Linked DNA regions of Homo sapiens. The protein of the gene in region 1 purifies or fractionates together with the protein of each later gene. This does not show direct contact. Each region holds a gene or a part of one and is shown on either strand. Other genes may lie near its edges.

The links.
Region 2: the proteins of TDP1 (region 1) and APTX purify together in Homo sapiens (affinity purification with mass spectrometry; one large-scale study listed by BioGRID and IntAct). This does not show direct contact.

Annotation. Positions count from the first base shown.
Region 1 is NC_000014.9:89,979,811-89,983,631, reverse strand, and holds part of TDP1 (tyrosyl-DNA phosphodiesterase 1), read right to left. Parts: intron 3,093-3,821; coding exon 3,000-3,092; exon of another isoform or gene 2,953-2,999; intron 2,170-2,952; exon of another isoform or gene 2,072-2,169; intron 519-2,071; exon of another isoform or gene 356-518; intron 1-355. UniProt on the Homo sapiens protein: DNA repair enzyme that can remove a variety of covalent adducts from DNA through hydrolysis of a 3'-phosphodiester bond, giving rise to DNA with a free 3' phosphate.
Region 2 is NC_000009.12:32,995,105-32,998,925, forward strand, and holds part of APTX (aprataxin), read right to left. Parts: intron 2,245-3,821; exon of another isoform or gene 2,139-2,244; intron 1-2,138. UniProt on the Homo sapiens protein: DNA-binding protein involved in single-strand DNA break repair, double-strand DNA break repair and base excision repair.

The DNA.
Region 1 (3,821 bases):
GCAATGACTTACAGGAGCAGTCAAAAGTATCAGGTGTTACTTTTTTCCCCTTCTGTGGCTACTCTCCTTTTCCCCACCCTGGGTTCTATCTATTAAGCTGAAAGAGAAACTGCCCAATTTCTCTTTCACCTGGCAGCCCCTGAAGGAGACTGGCAAGATGCAGGCCACCAGGGCAGAAGGCATCCAGAACTGCAAGGACTCTCGGCCGTACATCTTCTCAACTCTGCAAGTTTCTAGCAAGGGGCATTTCATACCCCTGCTTCCCACCCTGGGGAGACACTTAGCACAGGAGGTAGCATGGTGTGATGAGGGCTGGAGCCCATGTTCTGGACCCAGATCGACTAGCTGACTATACCATTTTGGGTAAGCTCTGTGATCTCTCTGGGCCTTTGCCTCCGTGTGTAAAATGACCAGGTTGGGCTGGACAGACGTGGAGGACCTCCCCTTGCAATAGCACCTCAAAGTTCCCAGGCTGAGTGAGGCTCCTCCTGGATCAGAGATTCACTCACAGGTGAGTTCTGGATGAGAAACAAGACAAATGACTTTCTAAACTAAGATGCTGAGATATGAGGCATTTTTAACACATCACAAAATGAGAAAATTATTATAATGAGCCAAATAATTTTATTTTATTCTTTACTGTGAGCTTTGGATGCAACTCTTGTTCTAATTTTAAAAAGTGAGAAATCAACAGGTGGATCATGAGGCAGCTGAAGGGGATTAGCAGAACCACAGTAGACCAATTATGAAGTGAGATTGTATACAAAAACTGCTTTCAAAAGTTTTAAAATTACCACAAATAACATGAAATGCAAAACATTAGAGAGTAGAATATAGGCCAAGCATGAAATAATAGGATCCCACACCAGGATGGCTGCCAGAGGAAGATTTCATAGTCTTGGTACTTTCTGAGTTTTGAACCGTTCCTACCTAGTCAATAAGTTTTCCAAAATTTTAAATTAAAAAATACTTTTTTTAAATAAAAGAAACACCCAAGCCCTTATCCCTGCCTCTTCCCTCCTGGCAACCACCCCAGAGAATCCCAAGACAGTACTACTGCCTGTAAGCTAAGCTTCCAACTTCAGAAGGAGCTGGAGGCCCAGGGTGGGATTCTTGGAACCACGTGAGGCTGAGAGCTAACCTGAGAAATCCCTTTAGTAACATTGTTTCATGAGAACAAGCTACATTAATCTCATTGCCTTTTGATAGGGCCACATGAATCCCCAAACCCAATCTGGCAGCTCAGGAGAACTGGCTTAGAAGCTCTTGGGGTACCAAAGGCATAGTTAACCATAAATTCAGTAGATCAAGAAAGTGCTACAGCTGAGACTTAGAGACCAAGCAGCTATCCCCTCAACCCTGGACCAGTCAGAGCCACACTTCATTTTGAAAAGCATATTTTCAGTGGGATACTGAAAAATTATAACATGTTTATAGAAAAGCGACCAGGAATTACAGCTAGGGGTCTCAAAGCCACATGCTATGGTGGGGCAAGGGAGTGGGGAGGGAACAAGAGATGTAAGGCTCAGAAACAAGACTCCCTTTCAAACTCTGAAGGACTGCTTTAAGGGAGGGAGATTACATTTGTCCTGCGCAGTGCACTCAGGTTGAAGCAAGACCTGTTGAAGGAAACTGGAAAGCTATTTCAGCTCAAACTAAGATGTAACTTGGGGCCAGGCACGGTGGTTCATGCCTGTAATCTCAGCACTTTGGGAGGCTGAGGCAGGCGGATCACTTGGCAACTAGGCAAAACCTTGTCTCTACAAAAAATAAAGACAGTTAGCCAAGTGTGGTGGTACGTGCCTGCAGTCCCAGTTACCCAGAAGGCTGAGGTGGGAGGATCACCTGAGCCCAGGAGGTTGAGGTTAAAGTGAGCCGTGATCGCATCACAGCATTGTAACCTGGGTGACAGAGTGAGACCGTCTCAAAAAAACAAACAAAACAAAGATGTAACCTGGGCTCAGCAGAGCTTAGCTGAAAGTAATACACTCCAAATTAGGAGTTCTAGCCCAAGCTAGGCAATGATATGGGGCAGGGTGAGGCAGAGGAGGATGACAGAGAAAACGTGAACCTGGAAATGGTGCTAGACAAACGTCCGAGTTTCTCCCAACACAGAAGGCTGTTTGTTAACCAGCTCTTCTCTAGCACAGGCAGAGATGTACAAAATGGCTTAAACAAAAGAAAATTAAAGTTAGTCATAATCAAGAACAATAGCTGAACTTGTTGAGCAAATCCCTAAAGCTCCCTTTTAAAAAGCAAACCCCTCTTGAAAAGGGGATCAAAACCTGGATCTAGCATATGTGCACCAAGTACAGAGGGTTAGTAGTTTAAAAAGTTCATAAAAGCTTTCGTATTCAGTTCTTCTCTTGGAGATTCACAACTTTATTAACACACTAAAGGCTCTAAAAAGACACCAGCTTAAATTTGTTTCAAAGAAAATACACCAACTGGGGGAGTGGGGAAATATTTAGCACACTATTAACATGACCAGGCCCTACCCCAACTTTTCCTTTGATTCCTGTTTGGGAAGTGGTAAGCAAAAATACAGGTGGGTACATGAGTAAGGAGAAATCACAAAAGCTATCTGGTAAATCCTACTAGGAAAACAATAGGTTCAGATCTTTCATTCTGTAACCCCTTTTCTGCCTCAGATCTCTGCATGTGCTGTGCCCTCTACTTAGCTGTAGAGTGTATATGATGCCACTTCTCTAAAAACTAGGAAGAGACTACTGTGTGTAAATAGTAATGTATGTTTACATGTACAGCAGAGGTAGCTGTGGATGATGATGCTCCTGTTAACACTGGTTACCCCAAGAAGGTAGAATGGGGCAGGTAGTAAAAGAATACAGTAACTTTTTCTGCATACAACTCTTTTTCTAGGCCATGTGTGTTATTTTTACAACTTAAAAAAAAAATAGAAAAAAGAATAAAGTGAATGTTCTGGCTTTTGACCTTTATCAACACACACACTGCCAGGAAGTGAGCAGGCCCCTACGAACCCTTGAGTTTTCTGGTGCCAGTCAGCATGGATGAGGTTGGAGGTGTGTATGACAACCCGGAGGCCTTCTTCATAGAGCAGCAGCATCATTTTCCTTTAAAAACAGCAAAGGATCAAAAAGCATTAATAGTACTTTCAAAATATGTAATACCTTTCCAATGCAAATGTAATACATAGCTAAAGGAATTTTTTTAAACTCTCATATTACCCAAACTTAACATTTATAATCTTCCCTTCTATACATTACCATGATGAAAGTCTGCCTAAGTGATAGGATGAAAACCTTTCAGAAAGGTTGAGTATTTGGTGGTAAAAGAACTTTCAACCCTAGTGCCAGTCCTGGCACTTCACATCCCTCCAGCCTGGCCCCTTATTATCTATTCAGCATTACCTGTTACTACTAGGGACCGTTGGAACCTTCTGGTCTGGTGTTTGAGATTCAAAGTATGGTCAACAACCTCTTGCTGCATCATGGCTGGCATTTTTTAAACAACTAAAATAGCATAAATTGGTATACTGTATATATTTAATTACTGGTTCATGAAATTTTGTTTTGGCACAAAGGTATGTTAGTGCACAATACACTGAAATGTAAAGTGTATTTCTTATTATGAGTTGAAATTTTAAGAAGTTTAAAAGATGCTTCATTACCATTAGTGGTTTTTTGTATCCATAGATGCCACACTTGTCAAAAGTGTGTTATCTGGGCTTGGGGTAAGTCTTGCCTATTCTTCATTAACCCAAATCAGACTTAGTGGGGTCCACTCTTTTTCCATGTGACCTCCCCAGGCCTCTAGTCGAACACATTTCTCTTATTTTAATT
Region 2 (3,821 bases), on another chromosome or scaffold:
GCTTGATAAAACAACATCCATTCTGCAGCCCATGGATCAAGGAGTAATTCTGACTTTCAAGTGTTATTAATTAAGAAATACATTTCATAAGGGTATAGCTGCTATCAACTGTGATTCTTCTGATGGACCTGGAAAAAGTAAATTGAAAACCTTCTGAAAAGGATACAACCATTCTAGATGCCCTTAAGAACATCTGTAATTTATGGGAGGAGGTCAAAATATTAACATAAACAGGAGTTTGGAAAAAGTTGATTCCAACCCTTATGGATGACTTTCAGGGGTTCAAGACTTCAATGGAGGAAGTCACTCCCAATATAGCAGAAATAAAGAGAACTAAAATTATAAGTAGAACCTGAAGATGTGACTGAAATGCTGCAATCTCATGATCATACTTTAATGGATGAGGAGTTGCTTCTTATGGATGTGCAAAGAAAACGGTCTCTTGAGATGAAATCTATTCCTGATGAAGATGTAATGAACATTACCAAAACGCCAACAAAGGGCTGGGTGTTATGGCTCACACCTGTAATCCCAGCACTTTGGGAGGCCAAGGCGGGCGGATCACGAGGTCAGGAGATCGAGACCATCCTGGCTAACACGGTGAAACCCAGTCTCTACTAAAAATACAAAAAAATTAGCCGGGCGTGGTGGCGGGCACCTGTAGTCCCAGCTACTCTGGAGACTGAGGCAGGAGAATGGTGTGAATCCGGGAGGCGGAGCTTGCAGTGAACCGAGATCGCGCCACTGCACTCCAGCCTGGGCGACAGAGCGAGTCTCCGTCTCAAAAAAAAAAAAAAAAAGAAATTGCCACAGACATCCAAACCTTCAGCAACTATGACCCTGATCAGTCAGCAGCCACCAACGTCAAGGCAAGACCCCCCCTACATCAGCAAAAAGATCACAACTCACTGAAGGCTCAGGTGACTATTAGCAATTTTTAGCAAAGTACTTTTAATTAAGGTGTGTACATTGTTTGTTCAGCCATAATGCTATTGCACACTTAACAGACTACAGTATAGTATAAACATAACTTTTATATGCACTAAGAAACCAAAACATGCATATGTTCACTTTATTGCAGTTGTCTAGAACCAAACCCACGTCTCTGAGGTATGCCTGTATGTATACCCTTCAAGTATAATATACTGAACAGCATCTCCCAAATAAATCGCTCTTTTTTTTTTTTTTCTGAGACAGGGTCTCACTCTGTTGCCCAGATTGGGTGCAGGGCGTCATCACAGCTCACTGCAGCCTCAACTTCCTTGGGCTAAAGTGGTCCTCCAGCCTCAGCCTCTGGAGTAGCTGGGACTACAGACACACACCACCATGCCTTGCTAATTTATTTTATTTTGAGATGGGGTTCTCACTATGTTGCCTACACTGGTCTGAAACTCCTGGCCTCAAGCAATCCTCCTGTCTTGACCTCCCAAAGTGCACGGATTACAGGTAGGAGCCACACCTGGCCTAAGTCATTCTTAATATGGTCTCCTGGTATTCCTTTCTCCTAAAACCCAAATCCTATTTAACTTTCAAGCCTCACCTCCTCCCTAAAGCCTTCATTGAGCTGTCTTCTCTTCTCTACATCTTATTATTGGATGTGGTCAAACTACCTTCACAGTTCTCTGACTGTTTAATGTGGATGTAATTCTACTTTCCAAACAAGATTATAATCTCCCTGCTAACAGACTGCATCACTGCCTACGCATTCACAAAACAATGAGGAGGGGTTTCGGGAGATCACTGTCCTGGGCCAGGCCTAGTCTTTACTCCAGGATCCCCCGGTTTTCAGCACCTTTATCAAGTGCATACTATGTGCTAGGCACTATGCTAAATGTCTTACTTACATGGTCTCATTTTAACACTCACAACTCCATTCTGAGAAGAGAAAATTCAGGATGAGAAGATAAGTAACATGTTCAAGTCACATAGCCAATATGTGCCAGAACTACAATTTGAATTCCAAAGAATGGGTTCTTAACCACTGCATCATATAACTTTTGGCTTCACTCATTTGATCGTTCAGTCAAAATTACTACACTCCTGTGTATCTTGTGCCATTCTAGTACTGGGAATAAAGAGATAATATATGAGCCCAGCCTTCAAAAAACTCAGCCTTAGCCAGGCATGGTGGCACGTACCTGTAGTCCCTGCTACTTGGGAGACTGAGGTGGAAGGATTGCTTGAGCCTAGGGGTTCAAGTCCAGCTTGGGCAACACAGCAACACCTCATCTAAAAAAAATAAATCTTGTGGAGGAGAAAAACACAAACAATTATGTTAATAGTAGATGTGGTAAACATGATGATTGCTCTGTGCAAAGGGTGGAAGCACAATGCTAGAGTACCCAACCGAGATTGGGAGGAAGGAGGTGTCAGGAAAAAATTTCCTGGAGGAGGTGGACCTAAACTTTATAACTGAGTCCCATTTATAAACTGGGTTAATTAGGTGAAAAGGAGCAGCCTAATTAGGTGAGGAGCAGGAGGTGGAGAAAGGAAACAGGGAGAAGATTCCAAGCAAAGAGAACAAGGGCAAGTACACAAAGAAGAAATAGCACAGTACCCATGAAGATGCCATTCAGTGTTGCTGGAACCTAAAGCATGAGGCAGAGAAGAGGCTGGAGATACAGGCAGGGTTCAGAACAGGCAGAGCCCTGGCTGAGAAGCTCAAACTTTAGAACTTTCAATGGATTTTGCAAGCCAGTAGACAATGAATGTTTGCTGAATGAATTAGAGAAAAGAATGGATGAATGCATGGACAGATCTTTAAAGATTAAGCAGGAATTTGATACAGACTTGTTTCCAAAGACCATCTGGGGGTGGAGGGGAGTAATGTGAAGAAAAGATATGGGGGAACAGGCCTAGAAGCAGGGAAATCAGTTAGAAGGCCATGATATTGCAGGTAAAAGGACAACAGTAGAGATGGAGAAGACTGCACAGATTTGAGAGATGTTTAGGGGGTAAAACTATCAGGACTTAGTGATGAATGTGATAAGAGTTAAGTCCAGGAAAGACACTGAGTTCAGTTTCAGTCATCTGAATTTGAAGTGTCTGTGGGACTTGCAGGCAGAGCTGTCCAGGAGGATAGTCAGATGTGAGGGTAAAGCTCAGAGAGGTCTAAGCTGACAATTTCAATTTGGGGGCATGTAGGAGGTAGTTAAAACCAAGCCAGCTGATGGGTTCACTCAGGCAATGTGTACAGAATGAAAAGAACAGTTTTCATTCTGAATGCTGGTAATATTATGTATCTGTAACCTAATCTGGATGGTGGTCACATAGGTATAATCATTTTATAAAAACTGGTCAAGCTTCACATCCACATGTATGTTTATTGCAGCACTATTAACAATAGCAAAGAGTTGGAACCAACCCAAATGCCCATCAATGATAGACTGGATAAAGAAAATGTGGCACATATATACCATGGAATATTATACAGCCATAAAAAAGAATGAGTTCATGTCCTTTGCAGGGACATGGATGAAGCTGGAAACCATCATTCTCAGCAAACTAACACAGGAACAGAAAACCAAACACCACATGTTCTCACTCATAAGTGGGAGTTGAACAATGAGAACACATGGGCAGAGGGAGGGGAACATCACACACTGGGGCGTGTCAGGGGGTGAGGGGCTAGGGGAGGGATAGCATTAGGAGAAATACCTAATGTAGATGACAGGTTGATGGGTGCAGCAAACCACTATGGCACTTAGTATACACCTATGTAACAAACATGCACGTTCTGCACATGTATCCCAGAACTTAAAGTATAAAAAAAAAATTGGTCAAGCTAAAAAAAAAAAAAGAACAGTTTTTCATTGTTTATA